Regions from separate parts of the Homo sapiens genome. Here region 1 is linked to region 2. Evidence: fine-mapped expression QTL. A gene starts in region 2. The other region holds a variant in brackets. All regions are shown on one strand. Distances are between the middles of the regions.

Region 1 (8,341 bases), 300 kb before region 2:
CAATGTTTTTCCTAAAGGCTCCCAGAGATTCCGATGTGTCCCCCAATCCCCGTATTCCCAAGAGATGATGTAACTTGCCCCTAAATTTTCTTCCCTCCAGTACAAATCCCAGTGTCTCTGAAGCCCTCCCTCTCCCGCCTGGGGGAGGAAAAATGAAGTACTGTAGCTTTATCTCTTCAATAGCTTTATTTTCTCCCCACAAACACTAGAGGCTCTGCTTCCACTTCCTGTCTACCTGAAACTTCCCAAATATAAAATGAAAACTGGAATTCAAAACTGAGAGCATATAAATCAATTTCTAGGTCTTACATTTATTTCAGATACTCTTCAAATTTGAGCTTCTTGAGGAGGAATCCATGATTTTAAGTGGATGTTTGTTTAAATCTTACCTTTCACACTCTCCCTTCTCATTTTAGTAAAGATAACCATTTATTTCCCCACCTGTAATTGTACTCTGGGTATGAAAGTCTCCGGCACACTGTACAACTGAGAGCTGAAAAACACAGACTATCTTTAAGAAGGGGTTTTTAGAGTATTATTCCAAGACAACAAGGGAAACTTTTCATGCGCGTCCGTGAGAAGAGACCACCAAACAGGCTTTGTGTGAGCAGTAAAGCTGTTTATTTCACCTGGGTGCAGGCGGGCTGAGTCTGAAAAGAGAGTCAGTGAAGGGAGATAGGGGTGGGGCCTTTTTATAAGATTTGGGTAGGTAAAGGAAAATTACAGTCAAAGGGGGGTTGTTCTCTGGCGGGCAGGAGTGGAGGTCACAAGATGCTCAGTAGGGGAGCTTTTGAGTCAGGATGAGCCAGGAGAAGGAATTTCAGAAGATAATGTCATCAGTTAAGGCAGGAACAGGCCATTTTCATTTCTTTTGTGGTGGAATGTCATCAGTTAAGGCAGGAACCAGTCATCTGGATGTGTACGTGCAGGTCACATGGGATATGATGGCTTAGCTTGGGCTCAGAGGCATGACATTCCTGTCTTCTTATATTAATAAGAAAAATAAAATGAAATAGTGGTTAAGTGTTGGGATGGCAACAATTTTGGGGGATGGTATGGAGAGATAGTGGGCGATGTTTCTCAGGGCTGCTTCGAGCGGGATTAGGGGCGGCGCGGGAACCTAGAGTGGGAGAGATTAAACTGAAGGAAGATTTTGTGGTAAGGGGTGATATTGTGGGACTGTTAGAAGAAACATTTGTCATTTAGAATTATTGATGATGGCCTGGATATGGTTTTGTATGAATTGAAAAACTAAATGGATTAAAGGTCTAAGAATTGGGAGGACCCAGAACATCTGATTAGAGAGTGCCTAAGGAGGTTCAGCATAGCCCTGCCAGCAAAGATTATTTATTTACTTTAAGAGTTAAGAGTGGCAGTTTGGGGATAGCACCAGGAGATATCAGCTGTGATGACTTGGAGAAACAGTGTAAACCGGCAGTGTAAACAAGAGCAGGGCATGTATGAGTAGTTGAGAACGGTGAATAGGAGTATGACTAGACAGAAGATAGTAGGGATGACAAGTTTTTTGGGGCACAGTCCAAGTTGGTCTGGTGTCTGGAATGACACTGAGGCCTAATAAAAAGGAGCGTCTATACAGGAGCTCAAATGGGCTGTACCCTGTAGCATTCTGAGGACAGGCCTGAATTCTGAGAAAAGAAAGAGGTAAAAGTATTGTCCAGTCCTTTTTAAGTTGGTGGCTGAGCTTGGTGAGGTGTGTTTTTAAAAGACCAATAGTACATTCTACCTTTCCTGAAGACTGAGGACTGTAAGGGATATAAAGGTTTCACTGAATACTAAGAGCCCGAAAAACTGCTTGGCTGATTTGACTAATGAAGGCCGGTCCACTATCGGACTGCGTAGAGGTGGGAAGGCCAAACCGAGTAATTATGTCTGACAGAAGGGAAGAAATGACCGCGGTGGCCTCTCAGACCCTGTAGGAAAGGCCTCTACCTATCCAGTGAAAGTGTCTACCTAGACTAAGAGGTATTTTAGTTTTCTGACTCGGGGCATGTGAGTAAAGCTAATTTGCCAGTCCTGGGCAGGGGCAAATCCTTGAGCTTGATGTGTGGGAAAGGGAGTGGGCCTGAATAATCCCTGAGGAGTAGTAGAATAGCAGATGGAACACTGAGAAGTGATTTCCTTGAGGATAGATTTCCATGATGCAAAGGAAATGAGAGGTTCTAAGAGATGGGCTAGTGGCTTGTAACCTACATGGAAGAAGTTAGGAAATGACGACAGAATAGAATGGGCCTGTGAGGCTGGAAGGAGATATTTCCCTTGGTCTAAGAACCATTTGCCTTGTGTGGGAAGAGATTGATAGGTGGAAGTTTCAGCAGGGGAGTAGGTGGGAGTGGCCAGATGAGAAGGAGAAAAACTGAAAGTGAGGGATATAAGTTGGAATGCTAGCTGCTTTTTTAGCTATCTTATCAGCATAAGCATTGTCCTGAGCGATGGGATCTGATGATGCCCTTCGACGGCCTTTGCAGTGAATGACTCCAGCTTCCTTTGGAAGTAAAGCAGCTTTGAGAAGTGTTTTTATTAAAGAGGCATTAATGATAGAGGACCCTTGTGTAGTGAGGAAACCTCTTGCATGGTGGTGCAGGATATGGAAGGCATATTTAGAGTCAGTATAAATATTGACGTTTAGTCCTTTTGCAAGAGTGAGGGCTTGAGTTAAGGCAACTAGTTCGGCTTGCTGAGAGGTAGTGGAGGAGAGCAGAGCAGTAGCCTTAATGATAGATGTGGAAGATACTATAGCATAGCCTGCCTTTGCTGGTGAGTGGCGATTAGGCCTGGTGGAACCGCCATCAATAAACTAAATGTGATCAGAGTGAGGAACAGGAAATAAGGAAACATGGGGAAATTGGGTGAATGTCAGGTGGATCAGACAGATATAGTCATGAGGGTCAGCTGTGGTATCCAGAATAATGTGGGAGGCTGGATTGAAGTCCGGGCAAGGAACAATGGTAATTGTGGGAAACTCAACAAAGAGTGAGTATAGCTGAAGGAGCCAGGAAGCAGAAAGTATATGCGTCAGGTATGAGGAAGAAAACAGATTTTGGAAGTTATGAGAACTGTAGAGAGTGAGTTGAGCATAGTTTGTGATTTTTAGGGCCTCTAAAAGTATTAAAGCAGCGGCAGCCGCTGCACGCAGACATGAGGGCTAGGCTAAAACAGTAAGGTCAAGTTGTTTGGACAGAAACACTACAGGGTGGGGTCCTGGCTCTTGTGTAAGAATTCTGACCGCACTAACTATGCCTAGGAAGGAAAGGAGTTGTTGTTTTGTAGAAGGGATTGAGGTTTGGGAGATTAGTCGGACACAATCAGCAGGGAGAGCACATGTGTTTTTACGAGAATTATGCCAAGATAGGTAACAGATGAGGAAGAAATTTAGGCTTGACTGAAGTAATGGGGGCTGTCTGTGAAGCTTTGCAGCAGTATAGCCCAGGTAATTTGCTGAGCCTGATGGGTGTCAGGGTCAGTCCAAGTGAAAGCGAAGAGAGGCTGGGATGAAGGGTGCAAAGAAATAGTAAAGAAAGCATGTTTGAGATCTAGAACAGAATAATGGATTGTGGAGGGAGGTATTGAGGATATGAGAGTATAAACAATTTGGTTGATAAGGGGCAGATCCTGAACTAACCTGTAAGGCTCGTCTGGTTCTAGGACAGGTAAAATGGGGAAATTGTAAGGAAAGTTTATAGGCTTTAAAAGGCCATGCTATAACAGGCGAGTGATAACAGGCTTTAATCCTTTTAAAGCGTGCTATGGGATGGGATATTGGCATTGAGCGGGGTAAGGGTGATTAGGTTTTAATGGGATGGTAATGGGCCTGTGATCAGTTGCCAGGGAAGGAGTAGAGATGTCCTATGCTTGTGGGTAAGGTGGGGGGATACGAGAGGAAGACGCAAAGGAGGCTTTGGGTTGGGGAAAAGGGCGGCAGTGAGATG[C/T]GGCTGTAGTCCAAGAATAGTCAGGGAAGCAGATAATTTGGTTAAAATATCTCGGCCTAATAAGGGAACTGGGCAGGTGGGGATAAGTAAAAAAGAGTGCATAAAAGTATTGTCTAAGTTGGCACCAGAGTTGGGGAGTTTTAAGAGGTTTAGAAGCCTGGCCGTCAATACCCACAACAGTTCTGGAGGCAAGGGAAACAGGCCCTTGAAAAGAAGGTAATGTGGAGTGGGTAGCCTCCGTATTGATTAAGAAGGGGACGGACTTACCTTCCACTGTGAGAGTCACCTGAAGCTCGGCGTCCGTGATGGTCTAGGGGGCTTCTGAGGCGATCGGGCAGCGTCAGTCTTCAGCTGCTAAGCTGAGAAGATCTGGGAAGGAGTCAGTCAGAGCGCCTTGGGCCAGAGTTCCAGGGGCTCTGGGAGTGGCTGCCAGGTGAGTTGAACAGTCCGATTTTCAGTGGGGTCCTGCACAGATGGGACGTGGCTTAGGAGGAATCTTGGGCTGTGGGCATTCCTTGGCCTGGTTGCCAGATTTCTGGCACTTGTAGCAAGCTCCTGGGAGAGGCGGGCCTGGAGGAACGCCTGGCCACTGCGGTTCAGGCGTTTGGAAGTTCTTGTGTGCTGGAGATGTGGCTGGGGTTTGTCTCACAGTGGAGGCAAAGAATTGCAACTGAGAAATATGTTGCTATTTGGCTGCCTCTAGTCTATTATTGTACACCTCGAAGGTGAGGTTAATTAAGTCCTGTTGTGGGGTTTGAGGGCTGGAATTTAATTTTTGGAGTTTTATTTAATGTCAGGAGCAGATTGGGTAATAAAACGTATTTTGAGAATAAGACGACCTTTTGACCTTTTAGGGTCTAGGGCTGTAAAGTGTCTCAGGGTTGCTGTCAAACGAGTCATGTACTGGGCTGGGTTTTTATATTTGATGAAAAAGAGCCTAAACGCTCTCTGATTTGGGATTAAAAAAAGGAGCATTAACCTTGACTATGCCTTTAGCTCTAGCCACCTTTTTAAGAGGAAATTGCTGGGCAGGTGGGGGAGGGCTAGTCACAGAACGAAACTGTAAGCCAGACCGGGTGTGAGGAGGGGAGGTGATAAAAGGATTATAGGGTGGAGGAGCAGAGGCTGAGGAAGAATTATGACCTAGCTCGGCCTTGCGAGGAAGGGAGAGGTCAGATGGGTCAGTAGAAAAGGAAGATTAGAAAGACTCAGTGACGCTTGGGGTTGGGACTGAGGGGACATGTGGGAGGGAAAGAAGGAAGATTTGGGACGAGTTGCATTGGGAACAGAGACCAGGGAGGGACTGATGTGTAAAAGAATGCCTGGACGTCAGGCACCTCGGACCATTTGCCTATTTTACGACAAGAATTATTTAGATCTTGTAGGATGGAAAAAATGAAAGTGCCATTTTCTGGCTATTTGGAACGGCTGTCAAGTTTGTATTGGGGTCAAGCGGCATTGTAGAAGAAAATAAGGCATTTAGGTTTTAGGTCAGGTGTGAGTTGAAGAGGTTTTAGGTTTTTAAGAACACAGGCTAAGGGAGAAGAAGGAGGAATGGAGGGTGGAAGGTTGCCCATAATGAAGGAGGCAAGCCTAGAGAAAAGAGAGAGACACGGAGGGAAGGGGTTTGGGGGTTCTTACCCTCCAGAAAAGCAGGAAAGTGGTCGGGGTGCGGAAATAAAGGGTTGGGGTGCAGAGATAAGAGGTCGGAGCATGGAAATAAGGGATCAGGGCACAGAGATAAGAGGTTGGGGCATGGAAATAAGGGATCGGGGCACAGAGATAAGAGGTTGGGGTGCAGAAATAAGGGATTGGGGCACAGAGATAAGGGGTCGAGTCATGGAAATAAGGGATCAGGGGGTTCTTGTCCCCAGAAAAGCAGAGAAGGGGTAGAGACATGCAGAGAAGGGGTTGGGGGGTTCTTGCTCCCTAGAAAAGCGGTACTTGTGGCTAAGGGTGAAGGAGAAGGGGTTGGGGGGTTCTTGCCCCCTAGAAAAGCGGTACTTGCAGCTAAGGGTGAAGAAGGGGTTGGGGGGTTCTTGCCCCCAGAAAAGCAGAGAAGGGGTAGAGACATGGAGAGAAGGGGTTGGGGGGTTCATGCCCCCCAGAACTGCAGTACTTGCCACTAAGGGTGAAGGACCAAGGCAGGCATCCCCACGTGGTCAGACACCTCTGAAACGTGGGTAAATAATCAGAGAGGCGTCCCTGCAATGATTAAACACCAAGGGAAGGCTGCCTTCCTGAGTCCATGACTGGTGCCTGAGTTTTGGGTCCATGGATAAAACGTGTCTCCTTTGTCTCTACCAGAAAATGAAAGGAATTGAAATTAAGAGAAGGGAGAGATTGAAGGGTGGCGCCAATATTGAAAGGAGATAGTGGTTGAGGGATAGTGAGAGAGGTTGGAGAAGAGAGTAAGAAAAGGACGCTTACCTGATTTAAAATTGGTGAGATGTTCCTTGGGCTGGTGGGTCTGAGGCCCTGAGATCGTAAGTGGATCTTTTTCACGGAGCAAAGAGCAGGAGGACAGGGGATTGATCCCCCAAGGGAGGTCCCCCGATCCGAGTCACGGCACCAAATTTCATGTGAGTCCGTGTGAAGAGACCACCAAACAGGCTTTGTGTGAGCAATAAAGCTGTTTATTTCACCTGGGTGCAGGGGGGCTGAGTCTGAAAAGAGAGTCAGTGAAGGGAGATAGAGGTGGGGCCGTTTTATAAGATTTGGGTAGGTAAAGGAAAATTACAGTCAAAGGGGGGTTCTCTGGCGGGCAGGAGTGGGGGCCACAAGGTGCTCAGTAGGGGAGCTTTTGAGCCAGGATGAGCCAGGAGAAGGAATTTCACAAGGAGTTAAGGCAGGAACAGGCCATTTTCATTTCTTTTGTAGTGGAATGTCATCAGTTAAGGCAGGAACCAGTCATCTGGATGTGTACGTGCAGGTCACAGGGAATATGATGGCTTAGCTTGGGCTCAGAGGCCTGACAAAAGTAAAACAAGGATTCTAGAGGAAATCAAAGCCTATGACACCTACAGCTACACAAATTGAAAATATAGCCTGACTTAGCCAGATAAACACAAAACCTCATTCTAACATCCTATCTACCCAATTCCTATTTTCTCTCTCCCAGGTCTAGACACTAAACTTCTTGAGGGCAAACATTGTTGTTTACTTCTTTAACTAGCTTGTGACACCACATAGCAGGTACGGAGCACATGCTTAAAATATTTGATGAAAGGAGGAAAAAGGAGGTTGTTAATTGAATGAACATCTACATAATAAAATAAAAACCTATTTCTTCCATGATTCAGGCAATTCACTTAAAGTGTTGCAATCCCACAAAAGCCTCCCATGCTTCCTCCATTTTAGAAATAAAAAACTTGAAGCTTACAGAACATCAGGTATAAGCCTAGAAATTGGTAAGGCTCTGATCCCAGCCAAGCCCACCTCTCCCACAGAGCAGGCTGCCTGCTGCATCTAGGGCTTCCATCACCCTGCCCAAAGGCAGGAAGTGGAGAGACAGAAGCACAGGGGTCCAGTAGAGTCTGAGCTTCCTTTCCTAAGCCAGGCACCAGAATCTTCATGAACTTTGTGTGTGTGTGTGTGTGTGTGTGTGTGTGTGTGTGTGTATTTTTTTTTTTTTTAGAGACAGGATCTTGCTACATTGCCCAGGCTGGTCGTGAACTCCTGGCCTCAAGCAGTCCTCCTGCCTCAGCCTCCCAAAGAGCTGGGATTATAGGCGTGAGCCACTGCACACAGCTTCCTTCATTTCTGTAAGTGTCAGTGAAAAAAGAATGTTTGTGAGTTAAGGAGTAGCAGTAGGGACTCGGAAGAGACTCTCATTTAGGACAGTTTTGACAATATAAGTGTTGCCAGTTTGCTTCCTAATGTTTGCATGGAGAATGGAACACTGGGTTCAGGTATTAAACTACTGTAGCACTATAGGGAGGATCAGAGACCACCATCGCAGGCCTGAGCAACATGGTACAAATCACGGATCTTGGAAACTGCGTTGGTGATAATAATTATGCATAATTATGAGTGTATTCTGCTTTAAAGTTTTTCAAAAAGTGAATTACCAGAATCTTTCAGACATTGTGTAACTTTTTGCTAAAGTTCAAAAACTTATACTGTTTTTATGGCAATTTTTGATTGATACTTGTTTTCTAATCTTGGGAGAAAAATGGAAAATAAAGGAAAGTTCTAAAAGGAAAATAAAATCCTCCATAATTTTACCACTCATAGTTAATCTCTGGTAATATTATGATGTCTTTCTTTCTATGCAAGGGTGTGTGTATGTATGTATAGTACAAAATTGCCACATTTTGAATGATATATTTCATATTTGTATTTATACATATGTAAACGCCTTTACTTCCTCCTATTTTTTCCCTAAAATTGTA
Region 2 (8,341 bases):
ATCCCCTGGACTAGCTTAGCCTCATATATACACACCTTAGACTTCTCAGGTATGTGAGCCAAAATTTCCTTTTTGCTCAAAACTTAAATTGGACTTCAGTCATTTGCTTTTGAAAGAATTAAGACTGAAACTATTCTTCCATAGAGCAGATACAGGAAAAACATGCTCCAGGGTGACAATTGAGAGTAAAATGACACAATTTCAAAATGTATTAAACAGACAGCAGTCTCGGCTTTCTCCTAAAGGGAAAGTAAATCTATTAGGGAACCTGAAGATGAGAGAGATACAATTACTATGAGAAGACATATTAAAGCTTATTCTTTCTTTTTAAAGAAAAAGATTAATTGGAAATAAAAGATGATAGAAACAGATTCAAATTGGTCAAAAGACACTGAGGAATAATATTATTTTACTGCTTGATTAATTGACTCATTGATATTAGAAGTATTAATTAAAGCAAGTATACAGCTCTATTTATGGACAACAGTGTGCTAAAACATGTCAAGTATTATTTCATAAAATTCTCACAAGAAAGTCATGAAGATAGATAAAAATTGCCTCCATTTTGCAGACTGGAAAACTGAGTGTCATAGACATTAAAAAACTTGTCCAATGTCACAAACTAGAATATGGTACATTCTACCTATATAAGGTTATGGTTGAAATGTTTCAACAAGCAAAAGATAAAACAATTACACACATGGATCCCAAAACACTCATTCTGTTTACTTGAAAACATATATATATATTCACCATTGCAGTATATATATATATATATATATATATATATATATATATATATATATATATATATATATAAACAATTACCTAGGGATACAAATGATAAATATGTTTGAAAAAATGAAAATTAGAGTTAGAAACTACTGGTACAAAACAAAAAACTTAAAACAAGTTATTTTAATTTTTTAATAGTAAAAGGAATACATAAAACGACAAAAGTGAAAGTTTCATTGGTTGTTTCTCAGACAAGAGAAGAAATCTGCAGCTAGATTTGTAGGAAAAAGCTGGACCATATGAGGAGAAATCCAGGGGTTCAATTGATACATAATAAATATAGTGACAGGGTCTGAAATATTTAGGAGGTCCTTAAAAGATGAAATTGCTATAGCATCTTTATTCATAATTGCCAAAACTTGGAAGCAATCTAGATGACCTTCTGTAGGTGAGTGGATAAGTTGTGGTAAATAGAGACAACTGAATATTATTCAGTGCTAAAAACAGAGCTGTCAAGCCATGAAAATACATGGTGGAATCTTACATGCATATTACTAAGTGAAAGAAGCCAATCTGAAAAGGCTACATATTGCATGACCCCAACTCTATGACATTCTGGAGAAGGCAAAACTTGGAGACAGGAAAAACACCAATGGTTTCCAGGGGTTAGGAGCAAGAAAGAGAAGAATAGACAGAACACAGAGTATTTTTAGTGAGTAAAACTAGTATGATACCATAGTGGTGGATACATGTCGTTATACTTCTTTCAAAACCCCCAAAATGTACAAAACCAAGAGTGAACTCTGATGTAAACTATGGACTTTGGTGATGATGATGTGTCAATATAGGTTCACCAATTGTAACAAACATGCTACTGTGGTCCAGGGGTTGATCACAGGGAGTCGTGCCCTTGTGGGGGCCGGAGGTATATGAAAACTCTTTGTACTTCTCACTCAATTTTTCTGTGAACCTAAAACTGCTCCAAAAAATAAAGTCTATTAAAGCAATGAAATTGCTCAGGAGGGCTTGATAGTGAAATTTCTGGAGCTGACAGACTGAATTAGGGTCCTAGTGTGTAGAGACCTGACATTTAAATGAATAAGCAATACAGAAAATTTTACTTAAGATGCCAATATTGGCTTGGAGTATCCTAAAAATCTAGATGTCATTTGATTGCACATTAAATTGTATTATAATTACATACAGGATCTTCTGCATTTGAACACAATGCCATACCTTTAACAATGATCCTTTTGTTTGATATTTATGTTGGCATAAATTTTTAATATGAGTGAGGGAAAGAAGAAAATTGCTTGTTTTTCTGAGGACTGTATATGTTTATGTCATTGAAATGAAGGACAACACTTAAATCAAGAAAATCAAAAACAATCAGATTCACAAGCAGACTCAAAACAAAAGAAATAAGGGTTTTAAAAAATCCCCTTAGTTTACAATGGGGACAAACAACATGATAGCATTTTAGCATCTAATAATAGCCATTATTTATACAAGCATATTTAGACTGTTATCAGAGGGAAATAAATATGGCTGTAGTAACATTCAATTTGGATTTTCCATAGGGTAGACAGGGTTGAGGGTTCCCCTTTATTCAAAACATAAAAGAGTTAGTAAATTCCTTGGCAGCAGGGAACAAAAATCTCAGCTGCCATTTGCCTGCTGGTGACTGAAACCCATTGCCTGAGTAATTTCTTATCACTGTCTGATTGACAGACCACAGTTTGATGTATTTTGAAGAACTGAGGGAGACCAAGGGTCTGAGAAATCAAAGATGGCTTTTATGCTGGTTTTTTAATAACTCTAATTTAAAGCAATTGCATGAACTAAAAGCTTACAAATATTTTAGAAATGACTTTTAAATGTCTCTCGATAATATTCTACAGTTTTGAAAGTCACTACAAAACAACAAACAAGACAAATCTCATTTTGACTAGACAGCACTTGGTTTACATTATTTTTCTTTTGTGGTCTACATTATTTAATTGCAATTAAAACAAAAATTATAAATGTAAGCCTAATTACAACAATACAAAAAACTATACATGAATCCTTGGAACTTAAAGAGATAAATTTGTCTGGTCACTCTTTGGCCTGTAGTTTTTAGTTTATTCCCTCAGGCCTGACCAGAGTATGAAAAAGATCACAATAATCATTTTTTTAAAAAGTCAATTCTTACGTGCATGCTCTACCTCATTTGACTAGGACAACTTTACTCTTTCCAGATTCTTGGACCATTCAAATTCATAGGTGTCTTCTGCCTCTGGAATGACACTGTATGCAGTATCCCTTTTTATTTAAGCACCTCGCTGGTGCTTACCACATCTTACCACATCAGGGACTTGTGATGCCTCTCTAAATCTTATTCATGCTTCAAAATTCAGCTGAAGGCCTACCTCCTTCCTACCTACTCCAGTCCATAGTATGCACTTTTCATTCTCCACTCTTTATACCTTTTGGCACAAATCATTTGGCGCTCGGCACTTCATGAAGCACATCGTGTGCCTTTAGCGTGTTTCTCCTGTTTCTATAGGCAGTCTAAGAAAAACGCTAGGTGGTAAGAGCACGCGGTGTCACTGTCCGTGGTCCTGAAACATGGTTGCGTGCTAAGATTCTTCTTAAGCCAATATCCGGTGACTCCTGTTCACTTTTTCCCAGGAATTTTTAAATTGGTAAAGTGGTGGGGACAAGAAAAAAGAAAGCCAAAAAGATATTGGGAGAGAAAGATAGAGGCATGGACAGAGGTATCCCTCTCCAGTCATTCCCTAGAGAGAATTAAAAATAGTAGGATTTTATGTAATTTTCAAACAATTGCAGACGCGAACTTGGAAGCAAAAGGGGGGAGGGAAAAATATCAATGGCATAGCCATTGATGAAGGAGAATTTAAAAAATGCATGCACTAAGTGACATAAAGCCATCCAAGTGTCGGCATGAACACACGCACTGATGCTAGTGGACTAGGATACCAAACAGGTAGCATGTTGTGAACTTAGCGTCGGTTGTGTCATACTAAACTTCCACAGATTTTCTTTTTGTTTCTCTCTCTTGATTTAAAACAAAACAAAATTGTCATTTGGCACTGTGGCAGAACAAAGATGACTGTAACTTATATTTCTCATCTGATGTAGCTGTGTACCTTTTTCACTGTTAGCACCTCTGTAACAGTTACATTCCAGCAACATCGAGTCCCAGCTGCCGATGGCTGGCGGCGCAAACACTCCCTGCCCTAGCTATGTAAGTTCCCCAACTACAGTATAACCTCTCAGAGGACGAACATTTTTGGATATCTCAAAATGCCTAAGTACAGTGTCTGGTACAAACTAGGAGCCAAGTAATATCCACTGAATCAAGAAAAGAATCACAATGCCTTCCACGGAGAAAATATTCAACAAAGGCTTGTTAAATGAGCAAATATTCCAGTTGTTTTAACAATTCCATCCTCTTCTAGGTTCTTTTAAAGTCCAAATCTCCCTTCCTCTCCCCTCGGGACTCCACATCCCAACAAACCTCCCTTCCGCGGCAGTCACTACCTTTGCAGCACTCTGGCCCTGCCCTCCTCCTGCCACGTGTCGGACCCCTGCTGGGCTGGCCCTCCTTTCCTACTCTGCGACACCCCTATCCCCCCCGCCCCTATCCTGCCCGCTCCCGCACCCGGTCCCTCTCCCCGGGCCTCGCGACTCCGGCGATTCAGCTCCGGGTCCCCGCCCGCAGGGTAACGCGGTTGTCATGGACACGGCACCTGCGCCCTACGGCGGTGCCCCTTCGCCGCCGTCCCCTCCCCCCACCTGCGGCGCCGAGCCTGCCGCGCCTCCAGAGCTCCGCCCTACCCCGCCCCGCCCTTTCGGGCGCTCCCCAGGCCGCGCGCGCCCGCGGCCCCCCACCCAGCCACCCCTCGATGCCCGGTGCCTTTCCAGGCGCCGCGGAGCCACGGGGACCGCGGGGGCGCGCGAGCGAGCAAGCGGCCGCGCATGCGCACTGGCTGCCTCCCCTAGCGGCGATCCGGGCCGCTGCCGCTCGCGCTTGGGCAGGACGCGGGGCGGGCGGGGGGAGGGGGGAGCGGCTTCGCTTCCAGCCCCGAGTGAGGCGGAGACCCAGGCGGGCGGGCAGAGCAGGCGGCACCGCACCTCGGCCAGAGGCGGCTGCAGCAGCTGCTGCCCTTGTCCCTGCCGCCGCCTCTCCAGTCCCTTCTGTGATTACCACTCCAGCTGCTGGGAACGGGCGAGAAAGAGGAGGAGGCGAGAAACTCCCACCGACCCACAGAGGTGAGTCCCGGGCAGAGCATCCTCCATCCCTGCCTGCCTCCCTCCCTCCCCACCTCCCTCCCATCCTCTCCATCCTCCCCCCTCCCCGCTCCCCAACCCTCCCTCCCTCATCCTTCCCAACATCCCTCTCTCCTCTCCCCTCCTTTCTCCCTTCCAGCCTTTCTTTCATCCCTTTCTTCCTCTCTCCCAGCCCCACTTCCTTCCCACCCTTTCTTTCTTCCCCGTCTTCCTTGCAGCCACTCGCCCTAGAGCACAGCTCTGCATCCCTTTCCTCTTGTCTCCATCTCTTCTTCCCCCCTTTCTTACCTCTTCCCCGGTGGGAGGGTGGGAGCATCCCTTGCCTGCTACAACTGTCCGGATTCAGGGGTTCCAGAAAATTGGGTGCATATACTGAGAGACACACTCTTAAACAGCGGGTGCCCTGCAGATTCCTAAATTTTTAGGATGAAGGGTCAAGTTGGGTAGAGTACTGGGAACTGGAGGGAGAAGAGGATCGAAGAAGAATCTGTGGATTTGTGCTATATTAGGGTGGGGGTGGGGAGGGTTGTCACTTGGACATGCTGCCAACAGCCCCCATACCCCTCTTCAGCAGTTTCTTTTTTTCTTCTGGGAATTACATATTTCCAGTGTGTGTCTCACCAATTTAAAATCCAGCCTTCCCTGCTTTGATTGTCTCCGTGAGAAACCACAACGAAAAAGGAGAAGAGAGGAAAGGAACAAGAGAGAAAAAGGGGAGGGGAGAGGAAGGGAGGTGGCAGTGGAAGCTTGTGTTCTTTTCCCCTAGGCCTCTTTGGTTTGACATTTTCAAACCACCCGCCTCATATTTGGCTTGGAATTGAACCCGTGTGTCCTTGGTCCTGTCACTACCTACTTCAAAGGCAGAAACTCTCTAAACTTTAATGCCTGTGCACCACAGCATTATTTATGGAATGTTTTGCTCAGCATACAAAATACCAAGATAGAAAGGTTTGGGAAAATAGGGAGCAGAAGGGTGGAAGAGAGGTACTTTTGTTCATCATGGGTTAACTTCTCAAGTAGGATAATGGTTAGACAGTTTTGGAGAAATGAGGTTATACTCCACAGGCTTGTAAATATACCATTTAGATGGCATTAGCTGCATTAGAGCCTTTAACAGACACCCTTACCCATTTTCACCCACCTCGTAGGACCCCTGAAGATGTTTAAAGAGAAACATGCTGTGTGATTCTGTTTGTGGCTTACACCAATGGAAAAGTTGAATTAGCTTCGGAACCATTGTTAATAATTTAAAATTGCTGTTGGTTTTACATCACTTATTTTCACAGAATGCTATAATTTACCTTGCTCTCTTCAGCTTGCATTCTAACCCCTTACATTATACATGTTATTGGCAATTTGACAATTCTTTCTGTTAGCATTGCTGCTGTAAAGTTTATTTTTACATGGCGGGACAGCCATGCCTCAGAATGTTTAGCATATTTATCATCTCAGAAGGGTCCAACAGTGTAAGTATAAATCAAAAATGGATATTTTGAAGCCTATATTTTGTTCTATTTATATTCTCCTAAAACAACAGACCAAAAAACCTTAATATCTTTAGAATAGCTGTGTTTTGTGTTTAAGGAGTATGTGTGAGGGACCAAAATTAATGGTGGATTCTTTGAAGTTGCCAGTAAGACACTATGCTGTGGAACACATTATTGATTTTTTTCTTTTCATTTAAATTATTATATGACAGTAGTGCAATATGCAGTTTTGCATTTTATGGGAGTGTAAAGCAGGAGTTGAGATGAAGAGAATTGCCTTCCTAAGTGATTGAGTGCTGATTTGATGAAGAGCTGATAGTTAATCACCTGAGTCAGTGCTGGGGAAGTGTGTAATATTAGGAGTGATGGACTCCTTCAACTCCCCATGGTAGGAATGCAATTCCATTAATGGCTTGGCTGACTCTTCAGCCATGTAACTAAAGCTTGGTTGAATTACCAGTGTTACCAACATCCTGATGCAGATTGCAGTCAACCCTGTGTGTATTGGAATGCTTGCATTACTTAATAGTGAACTTGTAGATAGGAGTGTTTTCCTTGTTGGTGTTCCTTTCCCTAGAATACCGTGAAACAAGTGAAAGACTGTCATGTTAATTATACATGAGCATAATAAGTTAGTTTTGTCCAAATTTCTTTCAAAAGACTTTTCCCCTGCCAGTATGTCTGCTGTTCTTTGTGGGGCTTCAGAGTTGTGAATGTGGGGAGGTGGCAGCCCCTCTATGGGCTTTGCTCTTTCTTTGTTGCAGTTTTTCTGCAGAGTGGTGTGGGTGTATGCCCCAGTTTTTGATACTGTGCTTAGTATAGAAACACAGGTACTTTTCACTTGCCTCCTTTGTAAACATTAGTCCACTGAGTGGAAACAAAACATACCAAGTTATTAAAGAACTAGCAAACAAAGTAACATTTTTTTACAGCAAAATTTTAAGAGAGATGAGTACAATTAATAAAATGTGCATTTTAGAAGAGCAACTAGTGTCTTTGAAAAGCAGCTTGCCTCCTTGACTATAATCCAGTTTGCAGATAAAGACTGACTTCCTCTGAAGAATTTCATTTCTAGAGGCTTCTGTCTTTAGTTGACTGGACCTTTAAAAATACTTGATACAATAAAGAGCCAATAGAAGATCTTATGGACCCCTGTAAAATGTATTCCGGATATATTCTCTGTGTCTCCCTCCCTCAGAGCTCTTAACACCTGCCTAACCCTAGGCTGAGTGGTGTGAGGCATTCCAAGAAAGTAGAAAGAAGTAAAAGACACTCTCTTTGACCTCAGCTTACAGTCTAGTTGAGGAGAACAGGCATTTGCATGAGGTCCTATTTCACAGTGGCAAGTAACAAGATCTTTGGAGACAGCTTTAGATGTGAGTACAGGCTCTAGTTCTTAGGAGGATCATGTCCTTGTGTACAATTTAAATCTGTTTTTTCATCTATAAAATGAAAATTGTAAGGGACTCTGATTCATGGGCTTGCTTTAAAGGTTAAATGTGTTTAGCTCAGTACTTGGTACAAACAAAACATGTATTAAGTAAACATTATTATAATTAGGAGAAATCACTTAAACACATTCCAAGACCATATATGATTATGTACTAGAAAGACAGAAGCGCAAGTAAGTACTAGAGGAATTGGGAAGAAGACGGGTGTCTGTGTAGCTGGGAAAATATTATATTTGGTAGTAGCACTGGAGCTTGGACAGAGACTCCTGGGAATGATTTCATGCAGGGTGGGCTGGAACAAAAGCAGAGAGGGAGGAAAAGGCATGGTGTGTTTGAAGAACATTAGAGAGACTATTTACTGGAAGATTTGGC

Alleles and levels. Positions count from the first base shown, and alleles are read on the strand shown. Sizes are in standard deviations (SD) of each study's normalised expression.
For the expression in pancreas of the gene that starts at base 4,857 in region 2, C is the low allele of the variant in region 1 and T is the other (large effect, 0.80 SD a copy in GTEx).

What was found. PIP is the estimated chance that this variant, and not a neighbour inherited with it, causes the effect.
Region 1: its variant is fine-mapped to the expression of CTNNA2 in pancreas (GTEx, PIP above 0.99).

Annotation. Positions count from the first base shown.
Region 1 is chr2:79,210,784-79,219,124 of GRCh38, forward strand. It overlaps a transcript of CTNNA2 not described here. Among named protein-coding and RNA genes, the nearest start is that of REG3A, 55 kb to the left of the region's middle. The variant C/T (reference allele first, on the strand shown) is at 3,948.
Region 2 is chr2:79,508,195-79,516,535 of GRCh38, forward strand. It overlaps CTNNA2 (catenin alpha 2), which reads left to right and starts at 4,857. Exons shown (of 19, transcript NM_001282597.3): 1 at 4,857-5,013.